Linked DNA regions of Homo sapiens. The protein of the gene in region 7 interacts with the protein of the main gene of each other region in a pairwise test. Each region holds a gene or a part of one and is shown on either strand. Other genes may lie near its edges. The genes, in order: ZBTB32, RAB3IP, DLX2, NNT, TSPOAP1, TENT5C and MVP.

What was found.
Region 1: the proteins of MVP (region 7) and ZBTB32 interact in a two-hybrid assay, tested with the Homo sapiens proteins (one large-scale study listed by BioGRID).
Region 2: the proteins of MVP (region 7) and RAB3IP interact in a two-hybrid assay, tested with the Homo sapiens proteins (one large-scale study listed by BioGRID).
Region 3: the proteins of MVP (region 7) and DLX2 interact in a two-hybrid assay, tested with the Homo sapiens proteins (one large-scale study listed by BioGRID).
Region 4: the proteins of MVP (region 7) and NNT interact in a two-hybrid assay, tested with the Homo sapiens proteins (one large-scale study listed by BioGRID and IntAct).
Region 5: the proteins of MVP (region 7) and TSPOAP1 interact in a two-hybrid assay, tested with the Homo sapiens proteins (one large-scale study listed by BioGRID).
Region 6: the proteins of MVP (region 7) and TENT5C interact in a two-hybrid assay, tested with the Homo sapiens proteins (one large-scale study listed by BioGRID).

What each region holds. Positions count from the first base shown.
Region 1 is NC_000019.10:35,707,558-35,711,057, reverse strand, and holds part of ZBTB32 (zinc finger and BTB domain-containing protein 32), read right to left. Parts: intron 1-3,500. UniProt on the Homo sapiens protein: DNA-binding protein that binds to the to a 5'-TGTACAGTGT-3' core sequence. May function as a transcriptional transactivator and transcriptional repressor. Probably exerts its repressor effect by preventing GATA3 from binding to DNA.
Region 2 is NC_000012.12:69,818,860-69,821,279, reverse strand, and holds part of RAB3IP (rab-3A-interacting protein isoform alpha 1), read right to left. Parts: 3' UTR 1-2,420. UniProt on the Homo sapiens protein: Guanine nucleotide exchange factor (GEF) which may activate RAB8A and RAB8B. Promotes the exchange of GDP to GTP, converting inactive GDP-bound Rab proteins into their active GTP-bound form.
Region 3 is NC_000002.12:172,100,101-172,104,108, forward strand, and holds the start of DLX2 (homeobox protein DLX-2), read right to left. Parts: upstream 2,801-4,008; 5' UTR 2,439-2,800; coding exon 2,039-2,438; intron 1,547-2,038; coding exon 1,362-1,546; intron 845-1,361; coding exon 443-844; 3' UTR 1-442. UniProt on the Homo sapiens protein: Acts as a transcriptional activator. Activates transcription of CGA/alpha-GSU, via binding to the downstream activin regulatory element (DARE) in the gene promoter.
Region 4 is NC_000005.10:43,655,180-43,658,679, reverse strand, and holds part of NNT (NAD(P) transhydrogenase, mitochondrial), read right to left. Parts: intron 2,841-3,500; coding exon 2,607-2,840; intron 2,028-2,606; coding exon 1,867-2,027; intron 1-1,866. UniProt on the Homo sapiens protein: The transhydrogenation between NADH and NADP is coupled to respiration and ATP hydrolysis and functions as a proton pump across the membrane. May play a role in reactive oxygen species (ROS) detoxification in the adrenal gland.
Region 5 is NC_000017.11:58,311,796-58,315,295, forward strand, and holds part of TSPOAP1 (peripheral-type benzodiazepine receptor-associated protein 1), read right to left. Parts: intron 928-3,500; coding exon 97-927; intron 1-96. UniProt on the Homo sapiens protein: Required for synaptic transmission regulation. It probably controls the recruitement of voltage-gated calcium channels to the presynaptic membrane, and modulates neurotransmitter release.
Region 6 is NC_000001.11:117,616,048-117,619,547, reverse strand, and holds part of TENT5C (terminal nucleotidyltransferase 5C), read right to left. Parts: intron 1-3,500. UniProt on the Homo sapiens protein: Catalyzes the transfer of one adenosine molecule from an ATP to an mRNA poly(A) tail bearing a 3'-OH terminal group and enhances mRNA stability and gene expression.
Region 7 is NC_000016.10:29,826,962-29,830,461, forward strand, and holds part of MVP (major vault protein), read left to right. Parts: intron 1-3,500. UniProt on the Homo sapiens protein: Required for normal vault structure. Vaults are multi-subunit structures that may act as scaffolds for proteins involved in signal transduction. Vaults may also play a role in nucleo-cytoplasmic transport.

The DNA.
Region 1 (3,500 bases), on a different chromosome or scaffold from region 7:
TGGGCTTTCGGGGAACCTAAAAGGGAGGAGGGGCAAGGGAACTCCCCTTTCAGTGAACAAAAGCCCCCAAGAATGGGGAACCCCACCTAAGGATATCCCCTTAGAGACCGCCTCCTAGAATTATCTCCAGGGCCCTTTGCACTGCAACCCTTATGCTGATGACACCCTGAGCACTTCTCTAGCCTCTTCCTGCATTCTTGACAGTGCAACCCAAGCCATCCTGCACTGAGCACAGATGGCAGAAGCAGACAGCACTTTGACTTGGAAGAGTAGGGACACTGCTGGTGCTGTTTTGTTTTTATTTTGAGACAGAGTCTTGTTCTGTCACCCAAGCTGGAGTGCAGTGGCGCCATCTCGGCTCACTGCAACCTCTGCCTCTGGGTTCAAGCGACTCTTGTGCCTCAGCCTTCCAAGTATCTGGGGTTACGGGCATGCACCATCACACCCGGCTAATTTTTTTGTATTTTTAGTAGAGATGGGGTTTCACCATGTTAGCCAGGCTGGTCTCGAACTCCTAACCTCAGGTGATCCACTGCTGGGATTACAGGTGTGAGCCACCATGCCTGGTCTGTTGCTGTTCTTAAAAGTACTCCCCCTCCCTAGACTCAAAAACCTTGCCCCCCCTTCCTCTTCCTGGGCTGACTCGGTAGGAATCATCTGCAGTTGTCTCTCTGGAAAGAGCAAAGAAACAACAGGTTATGCAGACACAAGCCTGTGTCCTGCCAGAGGGTAGAGCAGGTAGAGAGATTAGGTAGGGCATGATTGGAAGGGGAGTATGTGATAAAAGGCAATATGATATCAGCCTCTCAGTCCTTTTTAATACTTATATTACTTTCTTTTTTTTTTTGAGACAGAGTTTCACTCTTGTTGCCCAGGCTGGAGTACAATGGCGCTATCTTGGCTCACTGCAACCTCCGCCTCCCGGTTCAAGCAATTCTCCTGCCTCAGCCTCCCAAGTAGCTGGGATTACAGGCAACTGCTACCATGCCTGACTAATTTTTTGTATTTTTATTAGAGATGGTGTTTCACCATGTTGGCCAGGCTGGTCTCAAATTCTTGATGTCAGGTGATCCACCCACCTCGGCTTCACAAAGTGCTGGGATTACAGGCGTGAGCCTACATGCCCGGCCTAATACTCGTATTACTGAATAAAATTTGAAATCTGATTTTTTTTTTTTTGAGACAGAGTCTTGCTCTATTGCCCAGGCTGGAGTGCAGTGGCGCAATCTCGGCTCACTGTAACCTCCGCCTCCTGGGTTCAAGTGATTCTCCTGCCTCAGCCTCCCGAGTAGCTGGGATCACAGGTGTGCATCACCAAACCCGGCTAATTTTTTGTATTTTTAGTAGAGACAGGGTTTCACCATGTTGGCCAGGCTGGTCTCGAACTCCTGACCTCATGATCTGCCCGCCTTGGCATCCCAAAATGCTGTGATACAGGCATGAGGCACCACGCCTGGCCTGAAATCTGATAGTTCTTATTCTTACTGGTAGACTTGACCAATGGGACACTAAGGGAAAAATGTGCAAGGGGCTCGGGGCACACCCTGGCTGCAAAGTCAAAGCTTCCCAGAAATCCTTGTATCATGAACTTCTTGAGGCACAACCCAGCTTGATGTAACAATGTCAACACAGCAACACAAATACCAATTCTCCTTAAATATTATAATTAAAATCAAACCATCAGAATAGACCAATGGGAGGGATGATCATTTGTTTTGTGAAAAAGTTCTCCCTCTATTTCACTTATTTTAAATATCAAGCCCTCTTCCCAAGCCAAGTTGAACAAGATTCAATTTAGAAAAATTCTGTGAACTCGCCACTCTTCCCGTGAACCCATCTCTTTCCACAAATGAAGGTGGTTAAATTCCCCACAGCATTTTATATAGATTAAGAGCGATTATCCAAATCTTACATGAACTTTAAGTATGTTTACTCTTTCGCCAGGCGCAGTGGCTCACACCTGTAATCCCAGCACTCTGGGAGGTGGAGGCAAGCGGATCATCTGAGGTCGGGAGTTCAAGACCAGCCTGACCAACATGGAGAAACCCTGTCTCTACAAAAAATAAAAAAAATTAGCTGGGCGTGGCGGCACATGCCTGTAATTCCAGCTACTCGAGAGGCTGAGGCAGGAGAATCGCTTCAACCCGGGAGGTGGAGGTTGCGGTGAGCCGAGATCGCGCCATTGCACTCTAGCCTGAGCAACAAGAGCGAAACTCTGTCTCAAAAAAAAAAAAAGAAAAAAGAAAAAAGAAAAAAAAGATGTTCCGTCTTTCTGGTTAAGTACATCCAAGACTTCCAGAAAAGAGTCACCACAAGGAGTGAATTAGTTCCCTTTTTCCCTTAAATTTGTGCTCTATATGATCCAAGAACCAGCTATAGTCATACCCAGGTGAGCTGAATCTAGCCCCTTCATAGCACACACTTTGTGGATTAACTGGAAAAAGAACTAGACTAGAAGTTGGAAAACAGGTTTCACTGCATCCCTTCACAGTGAATGGCCCTTCTCTTCAGCACTCATATGGAGCTAAGTCTTCCAAGACCCTCAATTTCCTCACAGGGGCTGTTTCAAGACCAGTACAGAATACTAGTGTTGACTTAAACCTGGGCAAAGGGTCCCATTTGGACCTCCTCTGGCTGTATCCCTTCGCATAGGCTGAGTCAAAAGGCATCTAGAAAGTGCCTACCCGGAACTGTGAGCTCCCACCTCACTTCTGGACCATGCTCTGAGAACTCAGCACCCTGGATTTCCTGGACCAAATGACTCTGAGGCCCCCTACACAGGACTCAACCCCAGGCCTGTATTCATGAGAGTGGACTCTGACTGATGTACACACACGCTAGACCCTGATTTTGTGTAAGGGATTTGTAGACTGAGCTTGGATGTGCAGGCTAGAATGTGAGACACCTTGAAGTATGGGCCAACACCAGGCATGGGAAGAGACGAGGGAGTCTCTGTCATCTTGCCCAGGCCCCATAAATAATATAGGAACCTACTTTATTCCAATGGTTCTAAATCTCTTAGGGAGTCACCATCAGGTTCAGAATGTCACCCATGGGACTAACTCTTCTTTTTATTGAGACAGAGTCTCCTTCTGTCACCCAGACTGGAGTGCAGTGGCACGATCTTGGCTCAGTGCAACCTCTGCCTCCCAGGTTCAAGAGATTCTCCTGCCTCAGCCTCCTGAGTAGCTGGGACTACAGGCACGCACCACGACACCCGGCTAATTTTTGTATTTTTAGTAGAGATGAGGTTTTACCATGTTGGCCAGGCTGGTCTCAAACTTCTGACCTCAAGTGATCCACCCGCCTCAGCCTCCCAGAGTGCAGGGATTACAAGTGTGAGCCACCCAGCCTGGGACCAATTGTTGACATTAGAAAATGGTAGACACAGGCCGGGTGCGGTGGCTCACGCCTGTAATCCCAGCACTTTGGGAGGCCGAGGTGGGCGGATCACAAGGTGAAGAGATAGAGACCGTCCTGGCCAACATGGTGAAATGCCG
Region 2 (2,420 bases), on a different chromosome or scaffold from region 7:
AATAGTAATCTAATCTAGTTGTGATTTGGGTTTGCTTTGGTATTGACATTTCCTAGAGAGCTCCAACAGATACAGATAAAAGCTGAGCTGCTGCGGTTAAATCTGGGGATGTGGTGATGGGGGCCCTGTATCCCTCGAGACTGTCCCTGAGACCTGTAGCTCTAGAATCTAGTCCTCATGACCTCAGACGTTCCTCCAAAAGTAAACTGTGTGTGAACTTGTGCTCCCTTGAGAAGCTGCCTTTAGGAAGGGTTTCAATTCTTTTAATATTTTATCAAGTTTAGTCCTCTTCTACATTTTTTTTTTAAGTTTTGCAAATTTTCATGGAGTTTTTTAAAGCTTTCATTGTTATTTCTCTGTTAACAACTACCACTATGAAAACTTGATTTTCTATTGAGTTTGGGTTTTTTTTTTTTTTTTTCAGACGGAGTTTCACTCTTGTTGCCCAGGCTGGAGTGCAATGGCGTGATGTCAACTCACCACAACCTCTGCCTCCTGGGTTCGAGCGTTTCTCCTGACTCAGCCTCCCAAGTAGCTGGGATTACAGGCATGCGCCATCACACCTGACTAATTTTGTGTTTTTAGTAGAGACAGGGTTTCTCCATGTTGGCCAAGCAGGTCTCGAACTACCAACCTCAGGGGATCCGCCCGCCTCGGCCTCCCAAAGTGCTGGGATTACAGGCATGAGCCATCGCACCTGGCCAGTTTTTTTTTTTTTTTTTTTTTCTAAGTGCAATGGGAAGCCACTCAAAGGGCTTTAAGCAGGGAAGTGACATTATCTGATTTTCGTTTTATAAAGATCCCTGCGGCTGCCGTCAGTGATTGTAGGAGGGCAGGAGTGGATGCAAGGACAGCAGACATTAGTGCAGGAGTTCAGGTGAAAGATGATAATAGCTTGGGCAGAGTGGTAGCAGTGGACATGGAGGGAGGTAGACAGATTTAAGATGTCTCGGAGACAGCTGATGGAATTTGCTGATAACTGGAATGGGAGTGACAATGACAAATAAAGGAACCTAGAATAAGCCCCAGAATTTTGCTTAAGCAACTGAGAGTTCAGCCATGGCAGATCTGTTAAGCACAAAAGTTAAACACAAATACAAATTCATACTGCATTGGACTCTTTTAAGCAGTGTCTTATAGAAAAAACATTTTATCTAGGGAAAAATGCAACAACAAAAACCACTGAAAACAAAAGCCTATGAATAAAAGCAGACCCGTTTTAGACTGGATGCACAAAACAAAAACACACAGGATTCTTGTGGTGGCGATGGGAGTAAGTGAAGACGTAACAGGTTGCAAGTTATTTTAAGGACTAAGACCCAATGTTCAGAAACCAAATCTTGTTCTTCCAGTGTGGATGCTTAGTCAAAGACTGTAAATTGTCTTCAAGCTGAGAGAGACCATGAAGAGAGAGGAGTGGCCACCTAACTAACCTTCCCAGTTTTTGGGAGCCAAACCTAGACCAGAATGTAGGTCTAAGTGACTCCCAATCCAGAGCTGTCTCCATTAGGCCAGGCTCTCACCCCAGCTCCAAACCAACTTCTAAAAACTTGTCCAAGAGTCCTCCTCTTCTTTAGAATTGGTAATCTTGGCAATTAAATTCAGCGTAGAAACACTCTCCTGAACATAATCAGCATGCTGGTTCTTCCTTTTCTGTTGCCTTGCTCTTCCTAACAGCTCCTCCTTTCGTCTTTGCAGGCTGCTTCTCTGTCACAGGAACTCAGGGCTCAGTGCTGTACTTCATCTCCAAAGTGTCCCTAAAGCGCCCATCTGATCCCATGGCTAACTACTCCCCAAATTTTCTCCTGGACTGACCTTACTGAATTTAGATTTGTACATCCAATACCTGCTTAACATATCCACTTTGATGCTCAGTGGGCACCTCACACTTGATCTGTCAAACACTGAATTTCTGTCTCTGTTATGCACATACCCAAACTTTCCCCACCATGTATTTCCCCATCTCAATAAACTGCAATAGCTCAAGCCAAAAGCCTAAGATTCAGACCTGAATTCTTTCCTTTCCTCTCTCTCAAATGCAATTCAACAATTTTCTTACCTTTTATTTTTTGTTTTGGAATGAAGGCACATATAACTGAGCTAGTAATAATGCTTGATTCATAATACACCACCGATGTTCCATGCATAACTCTCTTATTCATTTGTCCATGCATTTATTTTGTTTTTGAATTTTTTTAAAGGGGGGCAAGGTCTACGTTGCCCAGGTTGGAATATAGTAGCTATTCACAGGTGAAATCATAGCACACTATAGCCTTGAACTGGCCTCAAGGATCTTCCTATCTCAGACTCCCAAGTAGCTGGGACTATAAGCACGCACCACTACACCCAGCTCATGTACTTACTTTTAATGACAAATGAACCACCCCAAAACCCACCACCTAACCCAGGGACTAAAACAT
Region 3 (4,008 bases), on a different chromosome or scaffold from region 7:
AACTGCAGCGTCCGAGCTGAGCCCAGGGGAGCGGGCGAGGAGAAAGAAGCCTCAGAGCGCCCGGGAAGCCTCGCGCGCCTGGGAGGCTTCCATCTCCCGGGACCCAGCTCTCAGCCCGGGGCGAGGAAGGCGCCAGACAGGCTCACCCGGAGGGGAGGGAAGGCAAGTCCGAGGCGGGGCTCGAAACAGCCGAGACCCGGGGCTCAGGTCAGAAATGCGGCCTTTTAGGGAGGCCTTTGCCAAGCTGCTGTCCGGTTCCCCCGAGAGAGGGGCCCGTTTGGTGGCCCCGGGAGTGAGCAGGGCCTGAGACGGGCCACTGCAGGTCGCAGCCTGCAGGAGAGGTGGGTGGCGGCAGCGGGCCGGGAGGAGGGAACCCCGGCTCGGGGTAAGCAATGAGGATAAGTGGTCTCTGCTCTCAGTCTCTGGCGAGTTCTCCCTGGGGTTAGAAAATCGTCCCCGCGCTCACCGGGGCGCCCCCGCCGCCGTGATGGTGGTGGTGGTGATGCGGCTGCGGGGTCTGAGTGGGGTGCAGCAGCGGCGCCGTGGCCTGCAGGTGTGAGGCGGATCCCGAGGTCTGGTGGTACCAGGGGTAGTTGCCCAGAAAAGCCGAGGCCGCGCTGCTCGGGCTGGAGCCCGAGCTGCCGGCGCCGCTGCCGCCACTGCCCGGACCACCGCCGCCCGCCATCCGCTGCGGCACACCAAAGTCCCAGGAGGCCGGCGCTGAGACTGGCGGCGAAGCACAAGGTGGAGAAGCGCTGGCCCCAGGGTGCTGCTCCGAGGGGATCTCACCACTTTTCCACATCTTCTTGAACTTGGACCGGCGGTTCTGGAACCAGATTTTGACCTTTGAGGAAAAAGACCTGAGCATTAGTGGAGGAACCTAGTCTTGGGGCAGTAGGGGTTCGAAGAGGAGAAAAAAGAAGGCAGAGAAAAACCGCTGGCTAGCGGTGGGCAGCGAGCGCCCTGGGGAGATAAGAGGATCACGGGCGGCGGCCTTCGAGGCTCTGCCGGTTCCTGCTCCCTGGGGAGGTAATTGCCAAAAGGCCAGGACTGCTGGTGTACGTGCACTGTGATGATGGTGACAGCGGGAGGGTGAGGAGGGCCAGTTATTTCACCCGCTTAATCAGTAGCGAGAGGTACGGGATTTCTGTCCACCCGGTCCCTTTCCTTCCCTCCCACGGCGGCCCCTTGGGGGTTTCCAGCTTTGGGCCTAGAAGCTTACTTAGGGCCGCTCGAGGCGCAGGCCTGGAAATCCTTAAAAGTACTTAAAATGAACTTTAAAAAGCATTGTCCTAAACCCGCCTGCTTCCCAGCCATCTCAGGCCCGCGCTCTCCTCGCCCCTGCAGGGCGCGAGCCCCACCTGAGTCTGGGTGAGGCCCAGAGAGGCCGCCAGCTCGGCTCGCTCCGGCAAGGCCAAGTATTGAGTCTTTTGGAAACGCCGCTGAAGAGCCGCCAGCTGGAAACTGGAGTAGATGGTGCGGGGTTTCCGGACTTTCTTTGGCTTCCCGTTCACTATCCGAATTTCAGGCTCAAGGTCCTCCTTCTCTGCAACGATAAAGAATCGTAAGAACAGCGCAACCCAGGGGTCCTGGAGTTCCCGCCCTCCTAGAGGGCCCGGCGGGGGGGACTTGGCTTGAGCAAAGAGGTGGGTGCACTGAACTGTGGCGCCACGGGCAGGCGCAACTTCGCAGCGTGCGATCGGAGCCGCCACCGACCCCGGGAGCTGTACCCTCCAGGGAAGGGGGAGACAAGTGCACACCCAAGAGAAAGAAGCTGGTGGCAAGGAGATGCCCTTATGAGGCAGGCAGAGCACGCCCACTTGGCTCTTGAGGCCACCAGGTCCTACCAAAGGAGAGAGGGACGTAACCGGCGACCTGCGGCAGATTGGAGGCTGGGGAGGGTAAAGGGCACAAGCGGGCGGTGAGCAGGCAGCGTGAAAATCCAGAGCTTTCGAAGGCCCCCCGCCCCAAACACGTTTACCCATCCATCCCATTAACTAGACCGACTCGGCACTCTTGACTTCAGCGTTATGCATACCAGGCTCGTTGTTGGCTGGGGACGAACTGGTTCCATAGGGAGCGTAGGAGGTGTAGGCGGCGGTGTAGCCCAGGTCATAGCTGCTCTTGGCGGAGTAAGGGACGTTGTTGAGGCCGCTGGCTTGGTACTGGTAGGAACCCATGTGCGCGTAGGGCGAGCCCCCGCCGCCGCCGCCGCCCGCCGGGTGCTGCTGGTTGGTGTAGTAGCTGCTGTCGGTGGCGGTGGACACCGGAAGGGTGGGCGACTCCTGGGGCTTGTGGAGGCTGCTGCTGCTGCTGCTGTTGCCACCCGGGCCGGCGCCGCCGCCGCTCGGGGGCTGCTGGTGCTGGTGGTACGTGCTGGAGGCGGCGATCTGGGTCGAGTGCATATCAGCCACTAGACTGTCAAAGACTCCAGTCATCCTGGCCCGAGACGGGAAAGAGCAGAGGTGGCGGGCGTGCGGGGGAAGCCAGGCGCCTCCTCTGTCTCTCCCGGTCCCCTCCAGCAGCCAATGTAATTACGGGGGTGGTGGTGGGGAAACAAGAAAGGAGGCAACCGTCTAGGCGCCTCCTCCTCCGGGGGAGGCGATCACCGTGCGCTGCTCGGGACAGCTGCCTCTGGTCGCATCCTCTTTCGGCCTCTGGGCCCGCTCGGCTCCTTGCCCAGCGCGAGCGCGGGCTCTGGCGGGGGGCGGGCAGTGGAGGGGGCAGGGGTGGCTGGGCCGGGTCGGGGCTCTGGGAGGCGGGAGCAGGTGAGCGGCCCCGAGCGGCTTTACGATTGTCTGCCAGGCGGGCTCCTGAAGTGTGGGCATTTAACACTCGTCACGTGAGCGCTGGCGACGTCACCTAGCAACAGCCAATCAGAAGCAAACGGCCGCGGAGCTCCGGGAACGCCCGGCCAAGGGGCGGGCGTCACATGGTGGGCGCTGTGGCTGCGGCTGCGGCTGCAGCGGCCCCAGGTGCAAACAGACTGCCGCCGAATGTGAGCAGCGAGGCGAGGGGTCGAGGTAGCGAGGAGTCAGGGTGGCCCGCAGCAGGAAGACAGAAGGCGTGGAGACAGACTGGCGTTTTGCCTCAGAGGAAGAAGTGGGGTCCCCTCTCCCATTCTGTGAGCAAGTGCCAGTTCCAGTGATTCGTACTTTCATGTCCGAGGTCAGTTTTCAAACACATTAAAGTACATCGGTGCCCAGAGTCCAGCCAGCTCTATCTTCACTTTTCCTCGAAGTGTCTGGCATTTATTCTTGTTAGCCACTCGGCACTTGACATAATCAATTGATTTAATTATCCACAAACCACGTGTAATGCTCGCTTCTTAACCAATCCGCAGGGATATTAGGACAATTAATCATATAATATTGAAACGGGTTTTCCTTGTTGCTTCAAAGAGAAGCTACATAAACTTAAAGGTATTATTGCTAATAGTATATTTGAAACCACTTTCCCTGGTACTTTCCCGACACGCGAGACTCTGAGTAATTATATACGTTTGATAAGTAAATGACACCCTGAAAGCCATCCCGAGGACTTCCTCCTTCGGGTGGAAAGGTTCACCAGTTGTCCTTGAAAATTCGATGCTCTTGCGAAAAAGGAAATAGGATAATAGGTGAGATTATAGATTTATCAAGTAGATACTAGATTTATCACTTCTCTGTAAATTTACAACAAATATAAAAAGTTTTATCTGGTTTGTTGAATTTAATCCTGTTTTACAGTTTTGCATTTTAGGACCCTGTTCTACCCTATCATTGCAATTTTTTTCTTTTCCCTCTGTTTTTTAAAAAATCGGAAATGGTGACTTCCTCTGTCTCTATAACCTTGTAGTTGGAAACCTTGGCCCGACGGTGATGGACTGCACGACTTGCTGGACTCCCAAGTCCGAAGTTCCTGCGGCAGCGCTTGCTTTGTGGCGCCACCTGGTGGGCAGTGTGCGAGGTTGCGGGGGGCGGGGTAGACGGTCTAATCACGCCCAGGCGCCAGCCTCTGAAACCCCCC
Region 4 (3,500 bases), on a different chromosome or scaffold from region 7:
AGTTTCTGTTTATAAATTCTACTCAAATCTCTGGATGACTCTTGAACTACACATATGTGAGACAGACTCCAAGCAATCCTGTTAAGGATAAAATAACAATAGATTTCAGCTGCCCCCCACCACCCACCATAAGGGAGTCAAAATTTGGAATTTGAGTTTAGCCAAGTTAGCTGGCTACAAAAACACATAAATAAATAATAATAATCAATACCCTTTGAAGGAATATAACATAACATCCAAAATGTCTATAATGTATCATTAACAATGTCCGTGATACAACTCGAAATTACTAAACACATGAAAGGAAAAAGCTTTTTGCTTTTTATTTCACATGTTTTTACCTTTTTTTGTTTGTTACAATGAGAGCATATTCATGTATTACTCATTTAAGCCAAAAGCAATAAAATAAATTCAAAAAATACTTTGTCTTAGTCAGACATTCTCATAGAACCAATAAATCCTTTAAATATCATAGTCACTGCTTCCCAAAAACAACAATTCTTAAAGTTTTAGATTTGTATATCTTTTTTTCTTTCTTTTTTTTTGAGACAGAGTCTTGCTTTGTCACCCAGGCTGGAGTGCAATAGCATGATCTCGGCTCACTGCAACCTCCGCCTCCCAGGTTCAAGCGATTCTCCTGCCTCAGTCTCCCGAGCAGCTGGGAATACAGGCGCAGACTACCACACCCGGCTTATTTTTGTATTTTTAGTAGAGACGGGGTTTCACCATGCTGGCCAGGCTAGTCACAAACTCCTGACCTCAGGTGATCCACCCACCTCGGCCTCCCAAAGTGCTGGGATTACAGTCATGAGCCACCTCACCCAATCACATTTGTATATCTTTTATTTTGAGACTTCATCAACCTATTCTGCTTTATTAGATTAAAAATATCAAAATTATTTTTCTTTTGTTTAAAACAAAAACCAGTGCAATAAGCCAGAATAAAATTAGACCATGAGTGTGAATATAAAGATGAGATTTTAATTTACTTTTCAGTGTTCTAAAATTTCTGTGTTAAAATCATGACCTAACTGCCATGATCACACAAAAATAAGTATCATTTTTACACTATAAATTAGGTGTTTCTCAATCAAGGAGCCAGTAAGTATTTCATAAGCAATTGCTATGTGTCTAACTTTGTGTTAGTTACTGTAGATAATTTTTTTAACTTAAATATAAACCTTGTCTACGGATTACACACTGAAAGAACATGAGTAACAGTGAATAACAGTAAATAGCGCTGCATAAAACAGCATCATACATTGATATAAGATGCCAGACTGTCACATAGACAACTAAAAACTACTGTGTGTTTCAATACACTAAATATAAAAATTGCAGAGAAAGAAGAAAGCCAAACCTATCATAAAAGCCTTCACTGAATACTCTCACTGAGCATACAGGGTTTTTTAACTGCATTTCATTTTATACTTATTTGATTTCGTGTCATATCTTCCAATGATGTAAGAGCAACTGGTGGGCAGAGACTATCTTACTTGTATTGTATAAACCCCGAAGCACTATTTTGTAGGGCTTGTCATATAGTAGGCACCTAATACATTGAAACCCTTGGCCTTTTTAAGCTCCTGTTCACCAACACATTGATCCGGTGAAAAGACTCCAGAGCAATAAAGGTGTCTCATGTGACAACTTTAAAATGAACAATTAAGTTGCAAGAAAGAATAATGTTCTTCCTACACTCTTCTATGTTTTCCAGATTCTAAAAAGATGCACATGTGACGTAATTTTAAAACATTTTTATTCCATCAAGGTTCTTGAAGAGATAAAAATATGATTACACTTTAATCTAACAAAATATTCCCAGTTCTTCACCAAATATGTACTTTTCAATCTCTGACTTCTTACCATGACAGCAGAGAGAGCAGACACTGAACCCAGACAGGTGATGCCAGTAGTAAAGCTTGGGTCCACCATGAATGGGATTATCCCGCCCACACTAGCAGCCAGTAAGCCTGCATTGAGTAAGTGCCTTCCAGGCAGTAGGAGAGGGGCAGATTTCAGGAGACCTAGAGCCAAGCACATAGTAGTTACAATTCAGAATGTGTTGTAAGAAAATACATAAAGTTCATTTCTGTGAATTCTACACAGTCATCTCTAACCAAGGATTATGAGGATGCTGTTTAGTTCACATATATTATCAAAAGTCAACTAGTCCCTCCATGCAAATTTCTGTTCACTAATTTCCTCCATTAGCTGTCTGCAAATGAAACAGCTTCAAAGCTTTATGAGACTTACTAAGTATCAATAAAGGGGAAGGATGAGGGGAAAAAAACTCTTACAATTTCTGAGTGCTATACGAATACTCTTCACCTAACAGTTTTACTGTTAAGGCATTTTTTTTAATCTTTTTTATTAGTAGTAATATTTTATTTTTTATAAAAAGTAGAGATAGGGTCTCGCTATGTTGCCCAGGCTGGTCTTGAACTCCTGGGCTTGAGAGCCTCCCACCTCAGCCTCCCAAAGTGCTGGATTGCAGGCATGAGCCATTGCGCCCAGCCCTGTTAATGTATTTTCTGAAATTAAAATGGATCCCTAAATGCCCTAAACAGTAGATATTTACCTCTATGTTATGCTGAATCACTTACCCTGCAATTTTCCATAGGCAATGAGAGACCCACTAAAGGTGACGCCACCAATGTAAGTGCCGAGGTAGGCCACAATCTTGGTGAGATTTGCTGCTGCATCCGTAGCAAAATGTGGATATTCTATAATGTACTCAGCTATGCAAGTAAGTACAGCTGCCAAACCCACTAAACTGTGAAAAGCAGCAACTAATTGAGGTAAATCAGAAATCTGGATGCGTTTGGCAATTGTCAATCCTGTTATGAAAGGTCAAAAATAAATTAAAACTTGACAAACTTTTGAGAAGTAACCACAACAAAGATCACCCTTAAGGATTTCCACCATTGTCACAAATAAATATTATCTAGTTCCTAGTACGGGCTAAATATTCTCTACAGGGGCTGTACAGAAGGTAAGGGCACTAGTTGTATACAGGTTGAGTATCCCTTATCTGATATGCTTGGGACCAGAAGTGTTTCAGATTTTAATTTTTTTTAATTTTGGAATATTTTCATATACATAATAAGATATCTTGGGAATGGGACCCAGGTCTAAACACAAAATTCATTTATGTTTCATATATATATAGCCTGAAAGTAATTTTAAACAACATTTTAAATTATTTTGTGCTTGAAACAAAGTTTGTGTTAAGTATTTATGTGTGGAATTCACCACTTGTGATGTCATGTCAGCACTCAAAAAGTTTTGGATTTTGGAGCATTTTGGATTTTCGGATTAAAGATGCTCAACTTGTATACCCTTTCAAAACAGCAGTTTTTCTCCACACACCTAAGCACGACCCAACTCCAATGAACACCCAGCATCAATGCGTGCCTCTTCCCGTCACAAACTCCCAACCTTCCCCTAGCCAACACTTCTTCAGACTACCTAAATCTCTAATCAAATTCCCTTATATT
Region 5 (3,500 bases), on a different chromosome or scaffold from region 7:
TCCCTGATAACGCAAATAAGATCAGGGTCCCCTTCTTCCGTCACCCATGGCCTGGCCTCCTGGGTGTTCTGGACAACAGGGCCCAAGCCCACATACCTGCTGGGAGTGTGGTGAACTGCAGGGTGGCAGCCCGCTGCTCCAGCCTCTCCCAGCCTGGTTCCCAGGGCCCTTGGGGTGGGAGCTGAGCCTCCACTTGGGCCTGATAGGGTGTGCCAGGCCGTAAGTGGCAGAAGGTGGCCCAGTAGGTACTGGGGCTGGCAGGTGGGCACTCTTCCCCATTGAGGTAGATGGCATGGGCCAAGTTGCTATTGCCGGGCACCCAGGTGATCTCAGCAGATGTGGCTGTCAACCGATGGACCCGCAGCTGGCTGGGCACCACTCCGGCCCGGGCACCCACCGCCAAGCAACAGCGCAGTGGGTCAGAGCTGCCCCGGCTAGTCAGGGCCTGGACAGAAATGTGAAGGGGCCCGGCCCACAGGTCCAGGTTCTCCAGCACGGCCTTGGGTGGCGCCCCAGGCCCCAGGGCCTGTCGCAGCTCCCCATTCACACAGATATGGAAGCCGTGTAGCTCCACTTGCTCAGGAGGCGGCTCCCAGGCCAGCACCACGCTGTGGGCCAGCTGCTTGAGGACCACCAGACGGCGGGGGTAAGGCACGGCAGGAGGCTCGCCCAGGCCCTCCGGTGATGGGCTCAGACTGAGCTCGTCCCCTGCATCCTCCTCCTCAGGTCTGGGCTGGCTCCTTCCCACACTGCTTTGGCCCCCGCTACTGCTGCCACCCCCACCTACACTCAGGAAACTGAGTTCAGGGCCTGAGCTGTGGGACAAATCGGCCAGCTCTGGAGGGAGGGAGGTCAGGAGGTCATCATCCGACACACGCTCTACAAAATTGGAAGGGACCAGGCCCCTTCGGCCATCCATGAGCTCTCCTGGCAGGAGGAGGACAGGAAGGGGCAGGGCAGGGGAAGACAGAGAGGAGATAAAGAAAAAACGGTATAATAAATGCATTTTAGCAACTGCTAGTGGGTGATCTTCAGCATTTGATTCAAATCAACATTTAACTGTCAATTCTTTTAAAAGACAAGAGCAGTAAAGATCTGGATTAGAGATAGGTCTGATAATAGTATTTTGGTTCTATAGGACAGTGCTTCTTCAATTTTAACTTGCATATGAATCACCTACAGATTTGTTAAAATGCAGATTCTAACTCGGTTGGGTCTGGATGGGGCTGAGATTCTGTGATTCTAATAAGCCACCAGGTGACACTCAAGCTGCAAGGATGGAGGAGAATATCATGTTCTAAGTAAGCATGTTGAGTATTTCAAGGTAAAATATCATAATGCTTTTAAAATCATGTTTAACCTACATATAAAGCAAATATGCCAAAGTTTTAACAATTGTTGAATCTAGGTGCTGGCTATATAAATATTCAAATATATTCTGTACATTTGAAAACTTTTGTGTTAAAAATTGCAATAATAATTTCATAATTTCATATTAAAGTTTTAAAAAATAAGCAGGTCAGGATAAGAAAACTGGCCAGGCATGGTGGCTTATGCCTGTAATCCCAGCACTTCAGGAGGATGAGGCAGGCAGATCGCTTGAGCCCAGGAGTTTGTGACCAATCTGGGCAACATGGCAAAACCCAATCTCTACAAAAAATGCAAAAATTAGCTGGGAGTGGTTGCACGCCTGCAGTTGCAGCTACTCAGGAGCCTGAGGTGGAAGGATTGCTTGAGCCCGGGAGGCAGAAGCTAGAAGTCATAATCGCGCCACTGCACTCCAGCCTGGGCGACAGAGCAAGATGCTGTATCAAAAAAAAAAAAAAAAAAATTCTGCTGGTTGGGTTTTACCTGGGCCTGAGGAATAGGGGCCAGGGTGCCCCTCAACTTCTCTTTGTGAACAGCAGACATCCACAGAGGGAGAGAGAGACAACCAACTCAGCAGGGTAAAGGAGGAATCTTTAGAGACAAATGAAGTAAGTGCTAGTGAAATAGTCACTTGTAAGTTCTAGAAGGATCAGGAGCCCCAGCAGGCCTGTGTCTAGCAGCATGATTGACAGCAGTCAATCCAGGCAACCACCAATGGTTATGTTTTGTTACCTGCATCAGTTCTCCTGAAGACTTGACAAGAGAGTATTTTAAAACATTTGCTGTTGTTTGATTGAGGGATGTCAAGGAAGCTGGGCACCCAGCATGTAATGTCACGGTCAATTTAAAGAAGAAAAAAAGGTCTCAGGAAACAGACAGCTGGTAGCTGGTGTGCTTTATTGAGAGGAAGGGGGAGCACGAGCCAGGGCTTAGGGGAGAGGGGTGAGTGTAGGCAGGTCTGAGCTGCAGGGGGGCCTGGAGTTTCCCCCAACAGTCATCTGTGCCCCTCACCTCCACCCTCTCTCTCTCTGCCTATGCTAGGCAAAAAAAAAGTAAGGAACTTGAAGAAACAAGAGGGACTGTCAATAAATTCACTGATATAATAAGCACTGTAGAGGGTTGAATGGTGGCCGCCCAAAAACATGTCCATGTTCTAATCCCCAGAACTTGTGAACATGACCTTATTTGGAAAAAGCGTCTTTGCAGATGTAATTAAGTTAAGGATCTTGAGATGAGATCATCCTAGATTATCCGGGTGGGTCCTAAATCTAATGACAAGTGTTTTTATAAGAGACATGCAGAGGAGAAACACTAAGAGGAGGAGGCAATGGTGACCACAGATAGAGACTGGAGTGAGGTGGCCATAAGCCAAGGAACAACTGGAGCCACCGTAAGCTAAAAGAGACAAGGAACGGAACCTCCCCTAGAGCCCCCAAGGGGATGCAGTTCTGCCAATACTTTGATTTCAGACTTCTGGCCTCCAGAAGAGGCCAGTGAGAGAATAAATGTCTATTGTTTCAAGCCACTCTATGGTAATTGCTCCTGCAGCCCTAGGAAACGATCATAAGCACCAGCACTGTGGAGTGGGAGACAAAGGCAGGAGTCTTCACACTAAGAGGATCTCCAGCCTGCAGGGCTGAAGCTGGAGCCTGGGCCGGAGTCAGGCACATGCTCCAGAAGCCCATGCAGCTGAGAACAGCCTAGGTGGCCCAGACATAGACGAAGCAGTCCTTTAGCTAAGGTTGGACAGGGAATACGGCATCTTGCCCCCGGTGGCATTTACATCTATCCCAATTTATCCCAGATCGCAGAGTTCAAATTCTAGTCATTTGTGGTTAGTTAATACTTATGCCTTTGCTGCCCCCTCCAAAAATAAAGTGTTTGGGTTTTGGTTTTTGATTTGGGTGGGGTTTTTTTTTCTTCATTTATAAAGTATTATTTTCCTGAAAGCTTTTTAATTCTGATCTTCATAATCTACCCCTGTAGGGAGTTTAACTGTTTAGGCCACAAAGCCAGGTACCATGGGTCTCAGCAGCTCCTCAAGTAACAGGCAGAGGACCCAGGGAAAAGAAACTGAGCAGGCTCCCAAGCTTCCAGGGTTACAGATTCAGAGCTAAGCCTGTTCCTAAATC
Region 6 (3,500 bases), on a different chromosome or scaffold from region 7:
TTTGACTATATAATTCAAAAACACCATAAAGTCAGAAGGCAAAAGTAGGAAAAATATTTGTAACATTAGGCAAAGTACTCATTTCCATAATGAATAAGGAGCTTCAACAAATCAGAAATACCAGAAGAACCCCAACAGAGAAGACACAAAGGACACAAACTACATCTCAAACACCTATTACAGTCACAACCTTACTTAAGAGAGGGGCAGATTAAAACCTCAACGTATCATTTTTATCCATCAAATGGGCAAAGATCACTAAGTCTGATATGTGGGAATCAGACACCCTCTAGTATACTGCTTGTGGGCTCTCTCCGGACACAAGACACTTAATTTTAAGGAGATATACTCTTTGACATAGGGATTCTACTTCTGGTAAGTCTACTTTGAATTATATCCTTAGTATATTTGCAAGTATACACAAAATATTCATTGGAGAATTATTTATAAAGCTATAAGTATTCACCAATAGAAGATGGTTAAATGATCTGATGTGTGTATAAAACAATACAGAAACGCATGCAGTTGTTCCTACAGATTTGAGCATTCAGGGTTTGTTTTCAACAATTCGAGATGACAATTCAAGACAGCTGTTCTTTCTGTATGACTGTGAAATGCTTATCAAGACTCATTAATAGAAAAACAAGTTAATAGCAAAACTGCTAACAGCAAAACTGTTAAAGTCTGTGCTTACACAAGCATATAAAGTCTCTGGAAACATATGCAGGTAGTAGTTTTAGTCTGTACCAAATACTTCCTCTAGTTTAGGGGAAGTAGATTCAAAGTTAGAAGAAGAAAACTTATTTTGTGCCCTTTGAATTTGGAATCTATATATGTATTAGTTGAAGAAAAATTAAAACCTTATGATCCTAAAGCTTCTCCCTTAGGAGCCTTCTATTCACCTGCTGCCTTATTTAACTTCTTCAATCCCCTTTTTCCTTCCCACCCCTCCTCTCTACATTCCACATTCTGCATTCCCACATCCATGTGACAAAATTAAGTACACTTGGAAGCTTCACCTCCAAGATGTAAATGCTGATCTCTACAGATAAGGGGATGAACAGAGGAAGAGAGACTCTTTTCCTTTAGAATGCCTTTCTATCAAGTTTCTACTCATATACTTTTTAAAAAGATGCTCATTAAAAAAAAACCTCAGACTCTCTAATTCATGCAAATCCATCTCCTCTCATCTCATTCTATGTTAACCAAAAGAAATTTTTTTTTTCAGTTTCACAGAATTGCTATTTCTCATTTCAAACATGTAGCTACCCTTGTGATACTGTTAAGTTGGTTGCTGGCTACAGCTGCAAAAACTTTAACAAACACTTTTTTCAGAAATACAATATGCCTGTGGTTAGCATCTTCCATGACAACTTCTTCTCATACATATATGAATATTGGAGTTAAATTCTAGGGGAAAAAGTCTGTATAAAAGCACAGTGTGGGACATGACAAATGCCAAGTCCATGGCGTAGTTTTTCACTTTCTCAATTTACCATGATTTACATAGAGAGGAGTTTAAGCCACTGAAGACACAAATTTAAGCTGAGTTCATACTAAGTGCTTAGCTCATTGGAAGAGCATAAAATAAGTCACTTGTGCCTATTAGAAAGGGATTCTTCATTGTCCCTCACTCGTCCAAACAATTTCAAATACCAAAAGTACATTTTAAAGTTACTTAGACAAACATTGGTATTACTAGAATACATCCAAGTCATAGGCCCTCAGTGTTTAGGTAACACATCAGTGCTTAGTCCAACAGTTTTTAGTTTTAATTAACCACGTTAAATCAACACTGATATAATCCCCATATAAAAGAATCACGTGGAACACACATTCCCAATTCATGAAAGGCCCTGGTTAAAGGCAAATTCTAGTTAGCAGAATTAACAAAATAGAGAACAAATTAATTTGAAGCCTAGTAAATTCAAATTAAAGTGTTTCATTTCCCTTTTACTGTTTGAGAAACAGATTCATTATATTTATACAGTAGAAATGGGGAAAGGTGGAAACCATAATTTGTTCCTGCAGATTTGAGAATTCAGGGTTTGTTTTTGACAATTCAAGATGACCAACTATCTCAGGTACTTTCGTACTCCCTTTTCTTCTATTATCTGACTGCAGTAAAGGTAGAATACACACACTGAAGGGAAAAAAAAAAAAAGAGGTTTGCAGAGATAGCAGCAAAAGAAAGGAAAAAACAAACTAGGCCAGAAGGTTAAACCAAGGTCCCTGAGAAAAAGTTTGATGTCTGATCTAATCATTTCCCACTGCCCAGGACAGAGCTGCTCAACGCAGATTGGTCTGAAAACCTATGTTTGAGCACTGAAAAGAAAAAAAAAAAAGCTATTTCTAGTCCTGCTTCATAGCTTATCTAGATCTCTGGACTAGCCAGTGAACTCCAGAAACACGATGAAAGTGTGAGGAACCCAAGGTGGGCGAGCGGGAGAGGCAGGTGCATGAGCTGGAGGGGAGGTAACTGTGAGCATTTATAACATTTGCACACAGTCAATTCGGTCAAAGCAACATTAATTCTTATTTTGTGCCTGGCATTAGACACAGAAACCGTCCACAAGGTTCTTAGTATGTGTGGAGACATACATCTATCAAGTTAAGGACTGCATATATCTAAGTCTAGGTCTGTGACCTTTAACATGAAAGCTATGGAAGTGATTGTCTAGAAAATTTCAGGAAAATGCTGAGGCTTGAACTGAGGCTCTCAGCTATTGAGGGCTTTCAGCAGTCCAGAGGCAACTAAGTGTTACCTTCTTCTGACCCTCCTGAGGGTTTATGAATACAAAAGAAAATCAAACACATTTCAGCCTTCCTTTGGGGACAAATTCTCTTTCACTATTTCTGGATGTTACCTCAAATGTGTGGTTCTTCCCAGTAAAACTTTCTAACCCAAGGTAAGAGCTGGAATCTTGGGCAATGCGCCAAGCCTGGTGACAGACTCCAAGAGAAGTGTGTACCTGGAACAAAGACACCTGTGGGCCCTGGCTCCTGGCCAACAGGGGACCCGTGCACCTGTGGCTCTTCCCACACATCTTCCACACAAACTCCTCCCCCGTGTACAAGAGGACACTTTAGACAAAAAGAGACCATTCCATTACATATGAAAACCTAGAGAACATAAGCAGAAATAAAAGTGGTGGCAATACACTTCATACTATCCTATCCCACTTCTTCCCTTAACAAGAGTGAATGACAACCACGACTCCAAGTCCATCTCTTCTTTGCTTGTGAAATGAAGGGTGTAGAGGTGTGTGTCAAAGCAAATGAAATAGTACTTAGTATGAGCCACTTCACTTCAATTCCCATCTAATCCTCATAGGAACTCTAAGGAATCTACAACTATCCCTTTTTCACAAATTAAGTAATAAGGTTCAGAAAAGATTAAGCGAATTGACCCCAGGTCCTCAACTGCGAGACTAGTGTCTGGGAACTGCTGACTCCCTTCCACCAAGCTCAAGGTCTGCCATGGTGGATGGGAGGTGGAC
Region 7 (3,500 bases):
CCAGCCCTCTGGACTCTAGGAAGTCGTCTTTCCAGAACAGAGCCCCGTATTGTGGAGCAACTGGGGGGTGGAATCAAAGGTGAGCAGGACAGGGCTATAGGAAGAAAAGACAAGGTCCCCATAAGAGTGGCGAGAGGAACAGAGCCAGGACATCGGAAAGCAAGCCCCTGTGTTCCCAAACCGCAGAAGAGGGAGCTCTGATGTTAGACAAGCCACCCTCCTACAAGCGAAGGGAAAGTAACTTTGAGCAAAAATGAGCAACAGAAAATGAGATCAAGGTCAGATCTCATACAAAGTTGCAAGATGAAAGAATGAGCAGCAGAATAACCTCCCTGTGATGTGGAAAGTGTGCCAGGAAAACAGACCCAAACTGTAACCTCTTTCAGAATGAGGCAAGGCAGTGAGGAAACTATGTGAAAACACGAAAGCAGCCGATCAGAGTTGTAAGCCCGGGCAGTCTGGGTTGGAATGGGTGCCCCGAGCCACGGGACCATGATGCCTCTCTAGAAAGACAGGACCAGGCATTCCACCAGGGTTCTAGTCCCAACAGCACCACTAACTTGCTTGTGGCCCTAAAGGATTCATTGTCCCTCTCTGGGTCTCAACTATTTAGAGCTCTACTGTCCAGTATGGGATCAACCAGCCATATTTGGCAATTTAAATTAAAATTAGCTGGGTACGGTAGCGTACCCCTGTAATCTCAGCACTTTAGGAGGCTGAAGCGGGAGGATTGCTTGAGCCCAGGAGTTCGAGACCAGCCTAGGCAACATAGCAGGACCTTGTCTCTGCAAAAAAAATGAAAAAATTAGCTAGGCGTGGTGGCACATGCCTGTAATCCCAGCTACTCGGGAGGCTGAGGTGGGAGGATCACTTGAGCCTGGAGGTTGAGGCTGCAGTGAGTCATGATTGTGCCACTGCATTCCTGCCTGGGCAACAGAACAAGACCTTGTCTCAAAAAATAATTTAAAAATTTAGTTCCTCAGATGCATTAGCCACATTTTATTTTATTTTTTTCCAAGACAGAGTCTTGCTCTGTCGCCCAGGGCTGTAGTGCAATGGCGAGATCTTGGCTCACTGCAACCTCTGCCTCCCAGGTTCAGGCAATTCTCCTGCCTCAGCCTCCCAAATAGCTGGGATTACAGGCACGTGCCACCATGCCCAGCTAATTTTTGTATTTTTAGTAGAGACAGGGTTTCTGCATGTTGGCCAGGCTGGTCTCAAACTCCTGACCTTGTGATCTGCCGACCTCAGCCTCCCAAAGTGCTGAGATTACAGGTGTGAGCCAGCATGACCGGCCATTAGCCACATTTTAAGTGTTCAGGAGCCACATGTGGATGTGGCTAGTCCAAAGACAGCACAGATTTAGAATATTCTCATCATTGTAGAAAGCTCTATTGGACGCTGCTGAGTAAAAGGGTTTTTTTGGTTTGGTTTTGAGATTGGAGTCTCGCTCTGTTGCCCAGGCTGGAGTGCAATGGCACGATCTCTGCTCACTGCAACCTCTGCCTCCCAGGTTCGAGCAATCCTCCTGTCTCAGCCCCCCTAGTAGCTGGGATTATAGGTACCCGCCACCACAACTGGCTAATTTTTGTATTTTTAGTAGAGACGGGGTTTCGCCATGTTGGCCAGGCTGGTCTCGAACTCCTGACCTCAGGTGATCCACCTGCCTTGGCCTCCCAAAGTGCTGGGATTACAGGCTTGAGCCACCACGCCCGGCCAAGTTAAAGGGTTTTTAAACAAGAGCTGGGCAGTGCAATGGCATAGCTGTAAGGCAGCAGGGGGTGGTGGGGACTGTGGTAGGTGGGAAAGCTTGTGTTCCATCTAAATGGGGCAGCTGCTGCTTGACTGTAGGCTGTATTGCTGGTCTTCTAATTCTTCAAGTGAATCAGGAATTGGGATTTTGTGAAGACTCACAATTTCTAAACAAAAAGTTGAAGTTTTACAGATCGTGGGGCTCAAGTATAACTCCTCTTGGGCTGTATCCAGCCTTGATTCTGTAATCTGTGGCTCCTGCCTGTTTTTCCTCGGCCAGGCCACTCCCTTCTTCCCCTCACTTATATTTTTCACCTGGGGTTGGAGGCTGGGTAGATGGTGGAATTGATGAGGAACCACTTTTTTTTTTTTTTTTTTGAGATGGAGTCTCACTCTGCCTCTCATAATGCTGGGATTACAGGCATGAGCCACTGCACCTGTCCTGGCCAGACATTTTTGAGGCCACCACCAGACAAAAGAGGCTCCTCATCGGCCAGGTGTGATGGCTCGCCTATAATCCCAGCACTTTGGGAGGCAGAGGCAAGAGGATTGCTTGAGGCCAGGAATTCGAGACCAGCCTAGGCAACATAATGAGACCTCATCTCTCCAAAAAAAAAAATTAGCTAGACATGGTGGCATGTACCTGTAGTCTCAGCTACCCAGGAGGCTGAGGCATGGCTTTTGTGAGCTATGATTGCACCACTGCACTCCAGCCTGGGTGACAGAGTAAGACTCCGTCTCAAAAAAAAAAAAAAAAAAAAAAAAGTCTGACCTGAGTCTCTTAAGGATGAGGCTCTGGAGCACCTAGTAAACTTGGTCCCATTTGTGTGACTCAAAGGGACATGTCCAAAGTCCAAAGTGCTGGGGGCAGGGGTGGGGCTTAGGTAGGGCATGTGACATTCCTGAACAGGCCAAGCACTGGGTGAAACTACTCAGGATTCAGAAGCAGGTGGGATGGGTGGGTGGAACATGATAATCATCCCCCTTCTCCTTCCTTTCCACCCTACCCTTGCTCACAACTGCAGGAGCTGAGGATGGGAGAGAACTGGGGACGAGGGGGCCAGAGTGATTTGCAGTGTTAGTAATGCAGCTGGTTCTATGGAAGGCTCAGTTCCATCTGGGATCCCTTTATGAGCAGTGGACTAGGTCTTCACATTCAGCCCAGGATTACTAAAGCATAGGAAAGAGGCAGGGAACATAGACACAGCTCATGTAAACATTCCTTTTGTTTATGGCCGAATCCTAGCCACTGGACTACCTGAGGCATACAGATATTCTTTGGCTATGGGCTGACATTTGAATACAGCTGGGGCCTCAGGATTCTCTGAAATAAAGGGCTGCCTCCCTCTGGAGGAGCCAGGCAGCTCCTCAGAGCAGCTGCCCATTGCGTGCTGGACAAGGCCATGTCACCACCTCCATGGCTCCCCAGTTTCCCAGCTTGCTGTATCTCTCCACCGTAAGAGACTGGGAGCACCTTGATCTGAAGCTCTTTGCAGTGCCGGTGGCAGTGTAGGGGGAAGTAGTTGATGGGAGTGAGGGAAAGGAATTGGCAAGGAACCCTGGGCCTCTGTGGCTCACTGCATCAAGCAGTTCTTGGCAAAGGTAAGGTCAGGATGGGCTGTGTCGTCTTGGGTGGGGTGAAGACAGGGAGCAGTGGGCATGCAGATGCGGACAGGGAAGGGTGCAGTGGCCTGGCTGGAGGAGGTAGGGCCGTATCCCACCCAGAGTCTGTCACCAGATTCATGCCT